4 linked regions of the Homo sapiens genome follow. The protein of the gene in region 4 purifies or fractionates together with the protein of the main gene of each other region. This does not show direct contact. Each region holds a gene or a part of one and is shown on either strand. Other genes may lie near its edges.

Region 1 (4,262 bases), on a different chromosome or scaffold from region 4:
AGGCGGGCCATCCACCTGCTGCCTACCCAGCCTGCACCTCCTGACCCTAGCCACCTCTGGTGCCAGTGCATGCATGGCTAGAGGCCCCGAGATCAGGCAGTCGTGCCCACGGACTGTGGAGAGACTCTGAACAGCAGCTCGTAAGTGGCTGCAAGGGAGCTACCTCCAGGTGGCTATCCCAGCCACTGCCCACCTCATCCATGACCAGCAACGCAAGCTGTTTCCACAGGCTCCACCAAACAGGTGAGGCCAGGAAAGTCATGGCTGGCTGACTGCTGTCTCCAACAACAGTTTTCTGCTCTTTCCTCAGGAACCAGCATTGCAGAAGGGGCTCCAGCTGCGTCTCTCACTCCCATTCTTATCCAGGACAGAGATCCCTCCAGTAGACCCCGGGCCACCATCACCCTACCCTGGTCCACCAGCAGCCTTGCTCATGCTCACGTCCCGCTCCACCTTGTTCACCGTGGTCCTATCCTGCCACTGTCCTCATCACACACCAGCGTGACTGTCAACTTACGGAATCTGTCCTCCCACTAGACTGTGAGCAGGGCCACCTCTCAACCATCTCTGAACAAGCAGGCACTCAATGAATGCCTGCCGAATGAGACCAACAGCTGTGAAGCACAGGACTCAATTGAACCCCACATGGCCCTGCCAAGCAACAGGCACTGATAACCCACAGTGCCTGCCAGGGCCCATGAGGCTGAGCAAGAGCCTGTCTCCTCCAAATGTGGAGCGCCCAGCACACCCAGACTATCCTCTCTGAAATTCCCATCACACAGGAGAGGTCCCCAAGGCCCAGAGAGGTTATGGGTTGGGGGGCGAGCCTGCAGCTGCATCTCCCAGAAGGACTTCCCAGAGCCCAATCCAGGGCAATTCTCACGTGACACACAGCCCCAACCGCACCCAGAACACGACCTCTAAACTGCCAGAAGATAAGCCGTCTTTTAGACGGTGGGTCCCCAGGGCCTTCCCCCAACACACCTGAGACGGCCCTGGTGACACTTATCCCTGCAGCTCCCCTGACTTCCAAAGCCTTCCAGTTTGGACAAGATGAAACGGGTGCCCCCTGTCAGAACCTCTCATGCTTTCTTATGGTGAGTGTGTGCAGTCTGTCTGCACAAACGGAAACACCTCCCGTTCCAGAGTGACTCTAGACCACAGCTGACTACCTTGAAAGCGGCAAGTATTCTGAGTGGTAACACTCACACAGGTATCATGAAGTTCACAACCAAAGGGCGTGCTTTGGCCGCAGAACCACATGCATGTCCGATCGTGTCTGGTTTTCCAGCGCCTGCAGATGAGGAGGATGCAGCTCCCACAGACAGGCCCGGCCGCAGCAGTGAGAAGCAACTGCCGAGTCTCAGAATGATGCCAGAAACTAAAAACCATGAACGGATGACCAGAGCCTGGGGAACCCAACAGCACTGTGCACCTCAACATGAGGGGAAACTGAGGCACATAATTGTCCCCAAAGTTAGGAAGAGACAGATTGGGAGTCTGGGCAGGGTAAGTGGGTCTGGCGACCACAGACACTGTCCTTCTCCCAGGGTGTGTGACCCTGTCAGCCCCAGCCAGTCCTCAAACGCCGCCTGGACCCAGCCCTGCTCACTGGCCATGAGCAGCTCCTAACCAGAGGCTAAACCGACCTGTCCACTCGCTGGGGCTGGGGAGGGACTGAGTGGCCTGCACGTGGGAAGACTTTGTCACCTGGAAGGAGCTGCACTGAAGGCCACCTCCCCGGCCCATGAAGCACCCTGGGGTCACACAGCTGGGCTGGGGCACGAGTGGGCCGTCCATCTGTGCTATTTATAGCCAGACGGGCAAGGCTAGCTTATCGCCAAACACAAGCTCTGCTGACATTCCAAGAAAAAAAGGAACGGCGCTGGGAGCCCCTTCATCTCTTCTGGAAGGGGGTGGGTAAGATGCGTGTCAAGGCCTCTGCCCCGCCCCCCCGCAGTCCTAACCGCAGGGACAGAGCAACGGGACCCGGCGGCGACGTGGGAGCGGGGAGACGCCGAGAGCCTGAGAGAGGGGGCCTCGGAGCCATGGGGGGCGCGCCCCTGAGACGACGCAGGGGCGCTCAGAGCAGAGCCCGGCCTGCAGCCCCCGCCCGCCCGCCGCCTCAGGGCAGGGCAGGCCCGGCGGGGAGGCGAGCGAAGGAGGTCCGGGGCAGCAGGCTGGGCAGGGAGGCGTCCGTGATTCCGGGAGGCCGCCTCGCGAGGGGAACGGCGCCTGAGGCTTCCCCGCGGGGCCCCTGCCCTCTGGAGATCGCGCTCTCCGGGGCGCCGGGCACCCGCCTCCGGGCTGGGCGGAGGGGCCCCTGCGGCTCCCGGTGCAGGCGGCGTCAGGGCTGCGGGCGCGGCTCCCGCCTGAAATCCCAGCTCTCGGGGAGGCTGAGGCGGGCGGATCGCTAGAGCCCAGGAATTCGAGACCAGCCTGAGCAACACGGCGAGACCCCGACTCTGCTAAACAGAGTCGGCCGGGAGCGGTCACGCCTGCGGTGTCAGCTACTTGCGGGGCCGAGGCGGGAGGATCGCCTGAGTCCGGGAGGCGGAAGCTGCGGTGAGCGGAGATCGCACCACTGCGCTCCAGGGCGACAGAGCGAGACCCTGCCTCAAAAAAAAAGAGGGAAAAAGCCCCGAGGGTCTCTAGGGCGGGGTCTGGGGACTTGCGGGTCTCGGGTCTCTGGGGCTGGTGTGCAGGATCTCGGGCGCCCCGGGCCGGGAGAGTCCTCACCGGTCGCCACATCTCCGACCACTGCTCCGCTCTTCTCCCGCCCGGCGCCGCTTAGCGTCTCGCAGCCCAGCAGGCCCTGCGGGAGGGCGCGTAGTGCGCACGCGCCGGAGCCAGAGCCCCGCCCCGTGGGCGGTGGGCGAGGCTGGAGGCCACGCCCCGAGTCGTGCCGGCCTCCGCGGCGGGGCAGCGTCCCCTGGCGGCCCCCAGAGGCTTACCTTTTGGCGCCCGGACCGCGCCTCCTGAGAGCGGAGGGTTCCAGTCCCGCCCTCGGCGCACTGCGCATTCCCCGGGCAGGCACCTGCCGGAAGGACCGCTGTGAGAAGCACGTGGATAATCCGGGGAGGGCTGAGGGCTTCCTGAGGTCCTCACGGCCCGGTATCCGCCTCTCTTTAACACTCCGTGCTATAGTGTGATTAGCGTGAATCTCTTTAACCTCAGGACTCCAACTCACCACCTGCCTGTGTGAGGGCCAAGATGACGCCCCTGACTGGGAACTGGAAGACAACCAGGAGAGTGGCCAAAGGGGTCCTGGAGCAGCTCCCGTGCCCATGGGGAGACCTTCCCAGGGCCAGGGCTTCAGATTCTGGGGTTCACTTTGCAGCCACCCTTGGTCCCTGTCACTTAGCTTCTTATGGGAACGTCAGTGACGTCACAGCCTCCTGCAGTGCCCTAGGCTGCTGCTACTCACTCTGTGACAGCCCTGGCTGGGTAGGGGCCCAGGCCCGGGCATGCCATGCAGCCAGCAAGGCTACTGCTGGACTGACGACCTCACCGCTACTAGACTGACCTCACCGCTACTAGACTGACCTCACTGCTACTAGACTGACCTCACCGCTGCTGGACTGACCTCACCGTCCCCGAACATGCCAGGGATCCTCGGGCGCCAACACGGGTCCTGGCACTTACTGCCTGCAAGCCCTCCTAGACCCCACTGTGAGCATGAAACAAAACACCATCCTTGTGGAATCCACGAGGGCTCCTGAGTCAGCTTGGCCTAAGGGTGCCACAGTAGCTGAAAGTGGGAGGTTTTCAGGCCTCAAGGCCTTTTCACAACTCTCAGAAGTGGCCCCTCCTCCTCCCACCAATGGCCCCTCCTCCTCCCACCAGTGGCCCCTCCTCCTCCCACCAGTGGCCCCTCCTCCGCCCACAAGTGGCCCCTCCTCCTCCCACCAGTGGCCCCTCCTCCTCCCACCAGTGGCCCCTCCTCCTCCCACCAGTGACCCCTCCTCCGCCCACAAGTGGCCCCTCCTCCTCCCACAAGTGGCCCCTCCTCCTCCCACATGGCTCCTCGTCCTCATCTTCTTACAGTCCTCTTGCTCCTCCCACTGGGACTGAACCCAAAGGCATCTCTTCAATGGGGTGGTCCCTGCCTAGGGAAAGCCGGTGCCTCCAGCCCTTTAGTGCCCCTTCTGTTATGGCGTGTCTCCTGTGAAGTCTCTGTCATCCCCAAGGTCAAGTTTGCTGGGCTCAATGATTCTGTGTGCCCTGCATCACTTTGCTAGCAGGACAGGGATTGGCCTCCA
Region 2 (3,500 bases), on a different chromosome or scaffold from region 4:
GTGTACAGACTCAGGTCCTGTCCCCAAGATACTGCATTATAAATATGAAAATATTCTGAAATCCCAAACATTTCTGGTCCTAAGCATTCACACAAGGGATACTCAACCTGTGCAGTAATTCCAACTTAGTCATTTGATTACTGAAGAAATCTGAATGTATCAATCTGGAAAATGAGAGAGGGAAAACCTTTCAAAGCACATGAAAGAGTGGGAGAACTAGAAATTGGTATGAATCGTAGTTTTAATGTTGTAGAAATTTAGAAGTACATTTCAAAATTCATTCATTGGGGTCAAGTGGTGACACAGTACTATATATTATCAAAATACTATATTTCATTAAATGGTACTGGTTGTAACACCTACTTTATTTCTCATTAAGAGAGAAAAAAATGTACTCAATTATAAATGATGTTCCATTGGCTGGTAGAGCCATCTCAATTTCAGAAACATTAACGTGTAAAGTACATACTTGAAAATAAATGAAGTATTAGAAAATAGATGGTATATACAAGGGAAAAAAGCCTTAGAAAACTAAAATCAGTTCCAGAATATTATTCCAGGATGCTTCAATGATCAATGATGACTTTATTCCAACAATAAAACAAGAGAATTGAGTCAGTCAATGTAAATTAGCTGTGAACACTGTTCAACTCTCTATTCTAGAGCTTCTGTTTTATTGTAGTTAGAGGTCCCAAACATAACTTGCAAAGCCAGTTTCTAGCTACGCTCTTCAATCCTTGAGGACAAAAAAATCTAATGATGAACCTCAATAGATACTGACTTTTCAATTAATGACAGAATAGAGCAGGAGTTATCAAACAATGACTGAATTAAGTATCATGGAAGTCAAGAGATGGCACTTCTCAGAAACAGCCCCAGATCGGCCGGGTGCAGTGGCTCATGCCTGTAATCCCAGCACTTTGGAAGGCCAAGGCAGGTGGATCACTTGAGGGCAGGAGTTCAAGACCAGCCTGGCGAACACGGTGAAATGCTGTCTCTACTAAAAATACAAAAATTAGCCAGGCGTGGTGGCGTGCACCTGTAATCCCAGCTACTTGGGAGGCTGAGGCAGGAGAACGGCGTGAACCCGGGAGGCGAAGGTTGCAGTGAGCCGAGATCATGCCATTGCACTTCAGCCTGGGTGACACAGTGAGACTCCGTCTCAAAAAATAAAAAATAAAAAAATAAAAGGCTGGGCTCATGCCTGTAATCCCAGCACTTTGGGAGGCCGAGGCGGGTGGATCACGAGGTCAGGAGATTGAGACCATCCTGGCTAACATGGTGAAACCCCGTCTCTACTAAAAATACAAAAAATTAGCCAGGCTTGGTGGCGGGTGCCTGTAGTCCCAGGTACTAGGGAGGCTGAGGCAGGAGAATGGTGTGAACCCAGGAGGCGGAACTTGCAGTGAGCCGAGATGGTGCCACTGCACTCCAGCCTGGGAGGCAGCAAGATTCCATCTAAAAAAGAAACAGCCCCAAATCATTTGCTATAGCTACCACCAGATATCTTGACACTGTCTGCCTTAGTGTACAAATCTCTCCATTCTATATGCCAAAAAATATGTATCATAGAAAAACTACTTACCAGCACTTGCAACGGTATTAAGGGAAAAGATGGGCTTTTCTTCTGTCTTATAGGAGATGACAGACCTAGAATTGACAAAAACAAATGTAAATCTCAAAATAATTTTTAAACTGTTATTTCAAAATATGAACAAAAGCATGAACATAAAAAAGCTTTGATTTCTAAATCTGTCTTGCCTGAATTTATTAAAGATGATGGAGCCTTCATCAAATTCATATCCAGAATTTAGTAATTCAAGGGCAATGACTGACGCATCTCCAAAAGTGGGGGGCTTTCTTCCCACTTCTTTGAATGCCACCAGAAACTGGTCAGAATGAGTCCTATAAGAAAAGCAAGAGCTCACATAGCTAGTTTAATAAGATTTCTGCTGAAAGAGCACAGGGGACAGGCAGGAGAAAACATTGTCACCATGGATCAGGTCTTTTGGGGTATGGGTGGTGGTGATTTCCTGAGTTGTTCCACACACTATCATCATTCCTTTCCTTCAGCACCTGCAAAGAACTAAGAACTAAAAATGAGGTCTGTTTTATATTCTTTTCCCCTTTATTCCTCTCCTTCTAATCCTAATGAACTATTGCTAACATTTCCAGGCTGTAACAGCTCCTCAGATGCCTCATTTGGCTTAATGCTGATAGCTTTTGATATTCACATGGCATTCAACTTATGATCCGGATGAAGAAGCAAAGGTAGAAAACAGGGGAAGGAAAACAGAAATGTTCCAATATATCCTGGAAAAAAGAAAAAGGAAACAAACACCCCCTTGTGAATATACCAAAAAAGGCCCTGAAGAATATACCTTGTTATTGATGAAGGTTTTGAGAGTTTGTCAAAACTTTTGAGAGAAGATTTATTCGTGCTTACATCTTTATGAAAATAAACAATATATATTTAAATTACCTATAAAGTATGCCTCTGATTTTGTCACCAATTCCAACAAGCATAACTTCTTTCCCAGCTGCTGTTAGTGTAGCAACCTCGCTTTTCATCTGTTTAGCAATGGAGGAATGAATAGCACCACACAGTCCTCGATCTGAGGACACACCAATAAGGAGGTGTTTCTTCTTGTCTTCAGGCCCCTTGATATCAGCTTTTTCATACAGAGCTTAAAAACAAACAAAAGCAGTAATTTTTTTATATGCAATACACTAAATACAATAAATCTCTAATTTACAAAGCAGTTGGTTATTTCCAAAATACGCATTTAAATTTAGCTGGCAACTGCCTAGTGTAAGCAGGTGTTCTTAGGACAGCTGTAAGCTGAGGCCGGGCACAGTGGCTCACGCCTGTAATCCCAGCACTTTGGGAGGCCGAGGTGGGCGGATCACCTGAGGTCAGGAGTTTGAGACCGGCCTGGCCAACGTAGTGAAATCCCGTCTCTATTAAAAATATAAAAATTGGCTGGGCACGGTGGCTCACGTCTGTAATCCCAGCACTTTGGGAGGCCAAGGCGGGCGGATCACAAGGTCACGATATCAAGACCACGGTGAAACCCCGTCTCTACTAAAAAATACAAAAAAATTAGCCAGGCGTGGTGGCGGGCGCCTGTAGCCCCAGCTACTTGGGAGGCTGAGGCAGGAGAATGGCGTGAACCCGGGAGGCAGAGCTTGCAGCAAGCTGAGATTATGCCACTGCACTCCATCCCGGGAGACAGAGCTAGACTCCGACTCAGAAAAAAAAAATACAAAAATTAGCCAGGTGTGATGGTGGGGGCCTGTTAATCCCAGCTACTGGGGAGGCTGAGGCAGGAGAATCGCTTGAGCCTGGGAGGGGGAGGTTGTAGTGAGCTGAGATTGCACCATTGCACTCTAGCCTGGGCAACAGAATGAGACTCCATCTCAAAAAAAAACACAAAAAGAAAACAAACAAAAAACAACAACAAAACACACACACACACATAAAAAAACAAAGGACAGCT
Region 3 (3,444 bases), on a different chromosome or scaffold from region 4:
TGCTGACTTTAGTTAAACATCAGTAGGCTTCAAGAGGCAACAGCTTCTTATGCTTCTTCCTGCTCTCTGCTTTTACTCCCCTCACAGCCTTACCAGCAACGTCTTCAGTGGTAAGATTTAGTAGAAACTCCTAGAGCCCTTTTGGAAAGACATTTGGTGTTATGCATGAGATCCTCAAAACTGCTCATTTATCCCATTTCATCCAAAATGACATTTACTATTTTTACTGTTTATTCCAAAACGCAGGAAAAGCTTCATATAAGATATTCGTTGCAGTATCTAAACGAGTGACCAACCAGAAACAATTCAAATGTCCAGCAATATGGAAATTGTCCAGGATAAACTTATGTCATACTCCCACTTGATAGACAATTATGTTGCTATTATAAACAACTACAGCCAGGCACGGTGGCTCACGCCTGTAATCCCAGCACTTTAGGAGGCCAAGGCAGGCAGATCACAAGGTCAGAAGTTTGAGACCAGCCTGACCAACATGGTGAAACCCTGTCTCTACTAAAAATACAAAAATTAGCCAGGCGTAGCGGCGCACACCTGTAATCCCAGCTACTCAGGAGGCTGAGGCAGGAGAATCGCTTGAACCCAAGAGGTGGAGGTTGCAGTGAACCAAGATCGCGCCACTGCACTCCAGCCTGGGCAATACAGCGAGACTCCATATTTAAAACAACAACAACAACAACAACAAAAAAAAACTACAGACTGCCAGGCACGGTGCCTCACACCTGTAATCCCAGCACTTTGGGAGGCCGAGGCAGATGGGATCGCTTGAGGTCAGGAGTTCGAGACCAGCCTGGCCAAGATGGTGAAACCCCTGTCTTTACTAAAAACACAAAAACTAGCCAGGCACGATGGCGCACGCCTGTAATCCCAGCTACTTAGGAAGCTGAGGTAGGAGAATCGCTTGAACCCAGGAGGCAGAAGTTGCAGTCAGCCAAGATCACGCCACTGCACTCCAGCCCGGGTGACAGAATGAGAGTCCATCTCCAAAAAAAAAGAAAAAAGAAACTACAGGCCAAGGCCGGAGGATCACTTGAGCCCAGGAGTTTGAGACTAGCCTGGGCAACATAGTGAGACCTGGTTCTACAAAAAAATAAAAAAATTAGCTGGGCATGGTGGCATACTCCTGTAGTCCCATCTACTTGAGGAGCTGAAGTGAGAGGATCACTTGAGCCCAGGAGGTCAAGGTTGCACTGAGCCGTAATTGTACTGCACTCCAGCCTGTGTGACAGAGTGAGACCCTGTCTCCAAAAAACCAATTATGATGACCATGTAAAATGGGAAAATGATAATAGTGAGAAAAGTATATAAAATTAAATGTACAGTAATGATAACTATCTCTAAAACCTATGCAGAGAATTAGTAAAAGACAACAAAATGTTAACGGTTGTTATTAACGAGCTGGGAACATGGGTGACCTTTTTAAAATCCCTACCAAATTTTCTTGAATGTGCGTATATACTTTTATAGGGAAAGGCGTCTATGTGTGTGTATGTGAGGTCTACCTCCATTTAGACTTGAAGGTGCTGCAGCCAATTGTAATAATGGTAAAAAGGTTCCTGGGAATCTGTGCCTCCAGGGTTCAGTGCAACCGCACTAGTAAAGCAGTTTCCAGGGCTCCTTGGCACCCTTTAATACCAATGTTATCCTGCTCTAAAATGCCTGTACTTGCCTAACTCCTAAGAAGACCCCCAAATACCACCTGGATGATAAGATTCGATCATTATGGTTCTCAGATACCACTTTAATCAGGTTTTTCACTATACAGTGATGGGGGTAGAAGATGGTGACTGTTTTCAAGCAAATTCACGAGGCACATGTTCGTCCCTGCCCCAAAGTGAACAGTCTGGGCTTCCCAGAACAGAAAAGTGCTTTCCTTCCTGGGGGAATCCCATTCCTGAGCTGACAAGACAGATTTCAGTAAGAATGAGCACAAAGGATAGGGCAAAATAGTGAAGGGAGCCAGGTGCATATTTGAATTCTTTCCAGTGCAGACTGGAACTAGACATGCAGGTATCCCTCCTAAAGGCAACGCCCAAATCCCAGCCATTCCCACTAGAGGCCAAACCGCCTGCCCACAGAGATTGACAGCCAATGTTCATCTCATAACTCTCCTCCCAGCAGTGCACCAGTAAACTCAGATGCCTGAGTGCTTGTGGCCACCACACAACAGATGCGGCCTTCCTCTTCACTGGCCCCTCGGCTGCTGCTGGGTCTGCCTGGCCATCAAGGAGCAGCCAGTATTTGTGTGGCTGTGTGGTGTGGGAAGGGCCAGAATAAGCAACAAAGCCAATTAGATGTGGGTTCTGGGGCTCTGTCAACATGGTAGCAGGACAAGTCACCACCCACAGTAGGACCATAGGGCCCTGTGTCCTCCATTAATTCTTCTCTGGGCGGTTTCTGTTCAGCACAGCTTTCGGGGCAAATTCTAGCTTGTCCTTAAGGCTCACCACCTGCGTGTGGTCCTTGCCTAGAAGCTCATCCAGCTTGCGATCCTCCCGGCGCTCTGAGATGCTCTTTTCCTCCTCCACGGGCTGGGGGTCCTTTCCCCTGATGAACCATTCCAGGTGGTAACCCACAGCCCCGACCACGAAGGCAACAGGGAATGTGACATAAGGAGCATAGGTACGAACCACGGTCCAAAACACAGGCCACATGACATCTGCGGAAAAGCACAAGGCAGCATTAGAGAACCCAGCATCATCTCCCACCAAATAAGAGCAACCCACTAGAGCTCTCCACTTACCAGGCAGCCTGGCACAATTTTTTTTTTTTTTTGAGACGGAGTCTTGCTCTGTCGCCCAGGCTGGAGTGCAGTGGCACGATCTCAGCTCACCGCACCCTCCACCTCCCAGGTTCAAGCAATTATCTGCCTCAGCCTCCCAAGTAGCTGGGATTACAGCTAATTTCTGTATTTTTTTAGTAGAGACAGGGTTTCACCATGTTGGTCAGGCTGGTCTTGAACTCCTGACCTCGTGATTCACCCACCTCAGCCTCCCAAAGTGCTGGAATTACAGGCGTGAGCCACCACACCTGGCCAGCCTGGCACAATTTACTGAGCACCCACCCCCGTGCAGAGCAATGCGAGAGGTGGATCCCTGAAATAATCTAGGAAATTTCAAAAGATTCCATTGTTAGGGAAGAAGGAAGGATCTCCATTTTACGGACCGTACTCTTTGACAAGTGTGCACCAATATATGACAATGTTCCCCACAAGGGGACCTCTGAGCCTTACCTAATAGAGCTTCAAGCCTATTGTTGACCCCAGGACCTAGTCTGCCAACATTTCAAGAAGGGAAAAAGATGCCTTTCTCTGCTCTATGAAATTTCTCCATGAGCACAGCCGGCCACCTTTTCCCCATGAAACACAATCTACGATGAATCTCCTGGTTTCACAATATGAAAAGTCGTTCCTTTTCCTCATGTAAA
Region 4 (5,091 bases):
CCCGAAAAAAATGATCCACCTACTCACCCTCAGAGATCTGGGCCATTTCATCTGAGGATTACCTGCATCTGTAAAATAACTGTTTACAAAAACTAATGTAAATGGTTACCATTTATAGCTACTTATCTGGTGACTACAAGGCTCACACCTGTAATCCCAGCACTTTGGGAGGCCGAGGTAGGTGGATCACCTGAGGTCAGGAGTTCGAGATGAGCCTGGCCAATGTGGTGAAAACTTTGTATTTTTGTACTAAAAATGCAAAGGTGTTTATATTGTGTGACCAAATAAAAAGTAAAATTTTTTGGCTGCTGAAACATTACCACCATCCATAATTCTTTTTTCTTTTTTTTTTCTTTTTTTTTTTTTTCGAGACACAGTTTTGCTCTGTCATCCAGGCTGGAGTGCAGTGGCACAATCTGGGCTCACTGCAACCTCCACCTTCCAGGTTCACGAAGTTCTCCTGCCTCAGCCACCAAGTAGCTGGGATTATAGGCATGTGCCACCACGCCCAGGTAATTTTTGTATTTTTAGTAGAGATGAAGTTTCGCCATGTTGGCCAGGCTGGTCTTGAACTCCTAACCTCAAGTGATCTGCCCGCCTCGGATTACAGGCATGAGATTACAGGCATGAGCCGCTGCACCTTGCCTCATCCATAATTATTATATTATTATTTTTTTTGAGACAGACTCTCCCTCAGTTGCCCAGGCTGGAGTGCAGCGGTGTGATCCTGGCTCACGGCAACCTCCACCTCCTGGGTTCAAGGGATTCTCCTGCCTCAGCCTCCCAAGTACCTGGGACTACAGGCGCGCACCATCACACCCAGTTATTTTTGTATTTTTAGTAGAGATGGGGTTTCACCATGTTGGCCAGGCTGGTCTTGAACTTCTGGCCTCAAGTGATCTGCCCACCTCAACTTTCCAAAGTGCTGGGATTAGAGACGTGAGCCACTGCGCCCGGCCTCATCCATAATTCTTGATAAGTAGACAAGTCCATCAAAACAGCTGTACAGTCCTCATTGTTTAAATTTTTAAGTAGATGTTCAAAATTGGGAACTTTAAAAAAAGTTACGTGAATAAAGTACAGCTTTTATGTTTTGTTGTTAGCCCAGGCTGGAGTACAGTGGCGCCATCTTGGCTCACTGCAACTGCCACCTCCCGGGTCCCGGTTCAAGCAATTCTCCTGCCTCAGCCTCCTGAGTAGCTGGGATTACAAGAACATACCACCATGCCCAGCTGATTTTTGTATTTTTATTAGAGATGGGGTTTCACCATGTTGGCTAGGCTGGTCTTGAACTCTTGACCTCGTGATCTTCCCGACTCAGCCTCCAAAAGTGTTGGGATTACAGGTGTGAGCCACCGTGCCCGGCCAGCATTTATGTTTTAGTATGAAATTTAAATGCTAAAAAGTTGCTTGACAAATTCAACATCCATTCCTAATAAAAAGAGTAACAGACAGAACAAAGATTACTTAAACCCAAAAGCTAACATCATATGTCACAAACACTAGATCCTGTATTTTCTGCTATTGTGATACCGCATGACTGACTACAGCTGTTCTGACACAGATCTGGCTACTGAGCTAAGAAATGAAACCACCTCAGAAGCAGAAGCCCTGGGAAAGAAGAGGCAGATGATTACTATGTACTAAGATCACAGCCATAAACTAAACCTGGGCTGCTACAAGAGCTGAACAAATAACAGGAAAGGGGCCAGATACAAGAAAATTGTACAACTTAGCAACTTACGGGACAGCAATGATCACTTAGAAAAGATAATGAAAAGAATTAATGAAAATAATAAACATCTGGGAATTATCTAAAATGCAATGCATGTGGCCTATACAAAGAAAACAGGCCGGGTGCAGTGGCTCACACCTGTAATCCCAGCACTTTGGGAGGCCAAAGGCAGGAGGACTGCTTGAGTCCAGGAGTTCAAGAGCAGCCTGGACAACATAGTGAGAACCTGTCTCTACAAAAAATACCAAAAAGAAAAAAATTTAGCAAGGCATGTTGGTAATGCCTGTAGTCCCAGCTACTCAGGAGGCTAAGGTGGGAGAATGGCTTGAGCCTGGGAGATCAAAGCTGCAGTGAGCCATGATTGCACCACTGCACTCTAGCCTGGGCAATGAACAGAATGAGATCCTGTCTCAAAAAAAAAAAAAAAAGTAATATTCCTTCCCAACTGGTTTAATGACACTTCAGATACAATCCCAAAAAGACTGTTTTAGAAGTAAAATGGTTCAGCTCATCTAGAAGGAAGGTCCAGACTGACGAGGTTTGGGGGAACTGGTCCCCAGGGAGGAACAACTGCTGGAGAACTCACTAAAGAAAATAACGGGAGCAGCTAGGCGCAGTGGCTCACACCTGTAATCCCAGCACTTTGGGAGGCCGAGGTAGGTGGATCATCTGAGGTCAGGAGTTTGAGATGAGCCTGGCTAATGTGGTGAAAATTTTGTACTTTTGTACTAAAAATGCAAAAATTAGCTGGGTGTGGTGGCGGCGTCTCTAATCCCAGCTACTAGGGAGGCTGAGGCAGGAGAATCGCTTGAACCCGGGAGGCAGAGGTTGCAGTGAGCCGAGATTGCACCACTGCACTCTAGCCTAGGTGACAAGAACAAAACTCGGTCTCAAAAAAAAAAAAAAAAAAAAAAAATTAGCTGGGTGTGGTGTGCGCGCCTGTAATCCCAGCTACTTGGGAGGCTGAGGCAGATAACTGCTTGAACCCGGGAGGTGGAGATTGCAGTGGGCAGAGATCACGCCACTGCATTCCAGCTTGGTGACAGCGCGAGACTCTGTCTCAAAAAAAATAAAAATAAAAAAAAAAAAGAAAATGCAACCTTAAGGAAAAAGACATAAGAAAACCAATTTCTTTTCTCATCCAAAGTTATAATAAAACGTTATTCGTGGACCTTAAAGTTGCAGTTTCTGCCAGGCATGGTGGCTCACACCTATAATCCCAGCACTTTGGGAGGCTAAGGCAGGCAGATCACGGGAGGTCAGGAGTTCAAGACCAGCCTGGCCAACATGGTGAAACCCCGTCTCTAATAAAAATACAAAAATTAGCCAGGTGCGGCCGGACGCGGTGGCTCATGCCTGTAATCCCAGCACTTTGGGAGGCCATGGCGGGCGGATCACGAGGTCAGGAGATTGAGACCATCCTGGCTAACACGGTGAAACCCCATCTCTACTAAAAATACAAAAAATTAGCCGGGCGTGGTGGCGGGCGCCTGTAGTTCCAGCTACTTGGGAGGCTGAGGCAGGAGGATGGCATGAACCCGGGAGGTGGATCTTGCAGTGAGCTGATATTGCGCCACTGCACTCCAGCCTGGGTGACAGAGCGAGACTCCGTCTCAAAAAAAAAAAAAAAAAAATTAGCCAGGCGCAGTGAGGCATGCCTGCAATCCCAGCTACTCGGGAGGTTGAAGCAGGAGAATCACTTGAACCTGGGAGGCGGAGGTTGCAGTGAGCCAAGCATGTGCCACTGCACTCCAGTCTGGGTGACAGAGCAAGGCTCTGTCTCAAAAAAAAAAAAAAAAAAAAAGAAAAAAAAAAAGTCGCAGTTTCCAAGAACCTACAGACATTAAATGAGACTTGCTGTACATCAAAATACTGACACTGGGCACTTTGAGGGCACAGTTGCCAGTGCCCACTCCAACTGGGAGTCCAACAATTAAATTCCATTTAATTCCTGTTAGGGGACAGGAAGCCTTCTGTCCCCAGCTCTCCAAGTGCAACTGGGCACTGAGGTTAGGAATGTTTCTATACTGTCTATAGATTCACTGAGGCATGTGACAATCATTTTCAAAATGGAAAGATAAAGGTTTAAAAGAAACAAAGAACAGGAAAGTAGGATACACTGTTTCCCTCAAAAATCAAGAGTCACTCGTGACTCTCCACCATTTTCAAACCCTGTTTTCAAACAGACAGGTGCAGAGTGATACTGATTTACTCACAGGCAGTTCCTCAACCCCAGGGTGCTGGCACAGCTGAGATGAGCAGGATCCCCTGGACTACCTGTAACAGGAACAGGGGAAAATAAATGAGTAGTAAATCAGGGATTTATACTGATACCTTTTTTTGTTGTTGGTTTTTGGAGTTTCGCTCTTGCGCCCAGGCTAGAGTGCAATGGCGTGATCTCGGCTCACTGCAACCTCCACCTCCTGGGTTTAATTGATTCTCCTGCCTCAGCCTCCTGAGTAGCTGGAATTACAGGTGCCCACCACCATGCCCAGCTAATTTTTTTTTTTTAGTAGAGACAGGGTTTCATTCACCATGTTGGCCAGGCTGGTCTCAAACTGCCGACCTCAGGTGATCCGCCCGCCTTGGCCTCCCAAAGTGCTGGGATTACAGGCATGAGCCACCGTGCTCAGCCTTTTGTTCATTTTGATTTATTTGACTTTGCCCAGGCTGGAATGCAGTGGTACAGTCACGGCTCCCTGCAGCCTTGAACTCCTGGGCTCAAGGGATCCTTTTGCCTCAGCCTCCCAAGTAGCTGGGACTACAGGTGTGCACCATCAGGCCAGGCTAATTTTTGTAAAGACGGGGTTTCGTTTTGTTGCCTAGGCTGGTCTCCAACTTTTGGCCTCGAGCGACCCTCCTGCATTGGTCTCCCAAAGTGTTGGGATTACAGGCGTGAGCCACCACTCCCAGCCTGAAACCTTCTTTTAAGTCTGAAAGAAGGCGGGGCGCCGTGGCTCACGCCTGTAATCCCAGCACTTTGGGAGGCAAAGGCGAGTGGATCACCTGAGGCCAGGAGTTCAAGACCAGCTTGACCAGCGGTGAAACCTCATCCCTACTAAAAATACAAAATTAGCCGGGTATGGTGGCACATGCTTGTAAACCCAGCTACTTGGGAGGCTGAGTCAGGAGAATAGCTTGAACCTGGGAGGCAAAGGTTGCAGTGAGCTGAGATCGCACCATTGCACTCCAGCCTGGGCAACAAGAGTGAAACTCCGTCTCAAAAAGAAAAAAAAAATCTGAAAGAGTACAGATCTCTTTTGTAGAAACCTCTGTAAGTTTCTGGAAGCCAGTTCTGAGTGTTGGAAGGTTTCAGAGCACTGCTAAGTGAAGGGTCTGCCCCAGTTATGAAAACA

Evidence for each region.
Region 1: the proteins of LETM1 (region 4) and ADCK5 purify together in Homo sapiens (affinity purification with mass spectrometry; one large-scale study listed by BioGRID and IntAct). This does not show direct contact.
Region 2: the proteins of LETM1 (region 4) and ATP5F1C fractionate together in Homo sapiens (co-fractionation; one large-scale study listed by BioGRID). This does not show direct contact.
Region 3: the proteins of LETM1 (region 4) and SMIM12 purify together in Homo sapiens (affinity purification with mass spectrometry; one large-scale study listed by BioGRID and IntAct). This does not show direct contact.

What each region holds. Positions count from the first base shown.
Region 1 is NC_000008.11:144,372,585-144,376,846, reverse strand, and holds the start of ADCK5 (uncharacterized aarF domain-containing protein kinase 5), read right to left. Parts: upstream 2,801-4,262; 5' UTR 2,752-2,800; coding exon 2,740-2,751; intron 2,022-2,739; exon of another isoform or gene 1,444-2,021; coding exon of another isoform or gene 1,210-1,443; intron 1-1,209. UniProt on the Homo sapiens protein: The function of this protein is not yet clear. It is not known if it has protein kinase activity and what type of substrate it would phosphorylate (Ser, Thr or Tyr).
Region 2 is NC_000010.11:7,798,177-7,801,676, reverse strand, and holds part of ATP5F1C (ATP synthase F(1) complex subunit gamma, mitochondrial isoform L (liver) precursor), read right to left. Parts: intron 2,688-3,500; coding exon 2,483-2,687; intron 2,247-2,482; exon of another isoform or gene 2,176-2,246; intron 1,906-2,175; coding exon 1,762-1,905; intron 1,651-1,761; coding exon 1,586-1,650; intron 1-1,585.
Region 3 is NC_000001.11:34,853,306-34,856,749, forward strand, and holds part of SMIM12 (small integral membrane protein 12), read right to left. Parts: intron 3,435-3,444; exon of another isoform or gene 3,251-3,434; intron 2,678-3,250; coding exon of another isoform or gene 2,673-2,677; coding exon 2,394-2,672; 3' UTR 1-2,393.
Region 4 is NC_000004.12:1,845,198-1,850,288, forward strand, and holds part of LETM1 (mitochondrial proton/calcium exchanger protein precursor), read right to left. Parts: intron 4,013-5,091; coding exon 3,952-4,012; intron 1-3,951. UniProt on the Homo sapiens protein: Plays an important role in maintenance of mitochondrial morphology and in mediating either calcium or potassium/proton antiport. Mediates proton-dependent calcium efflux from mitochondrion.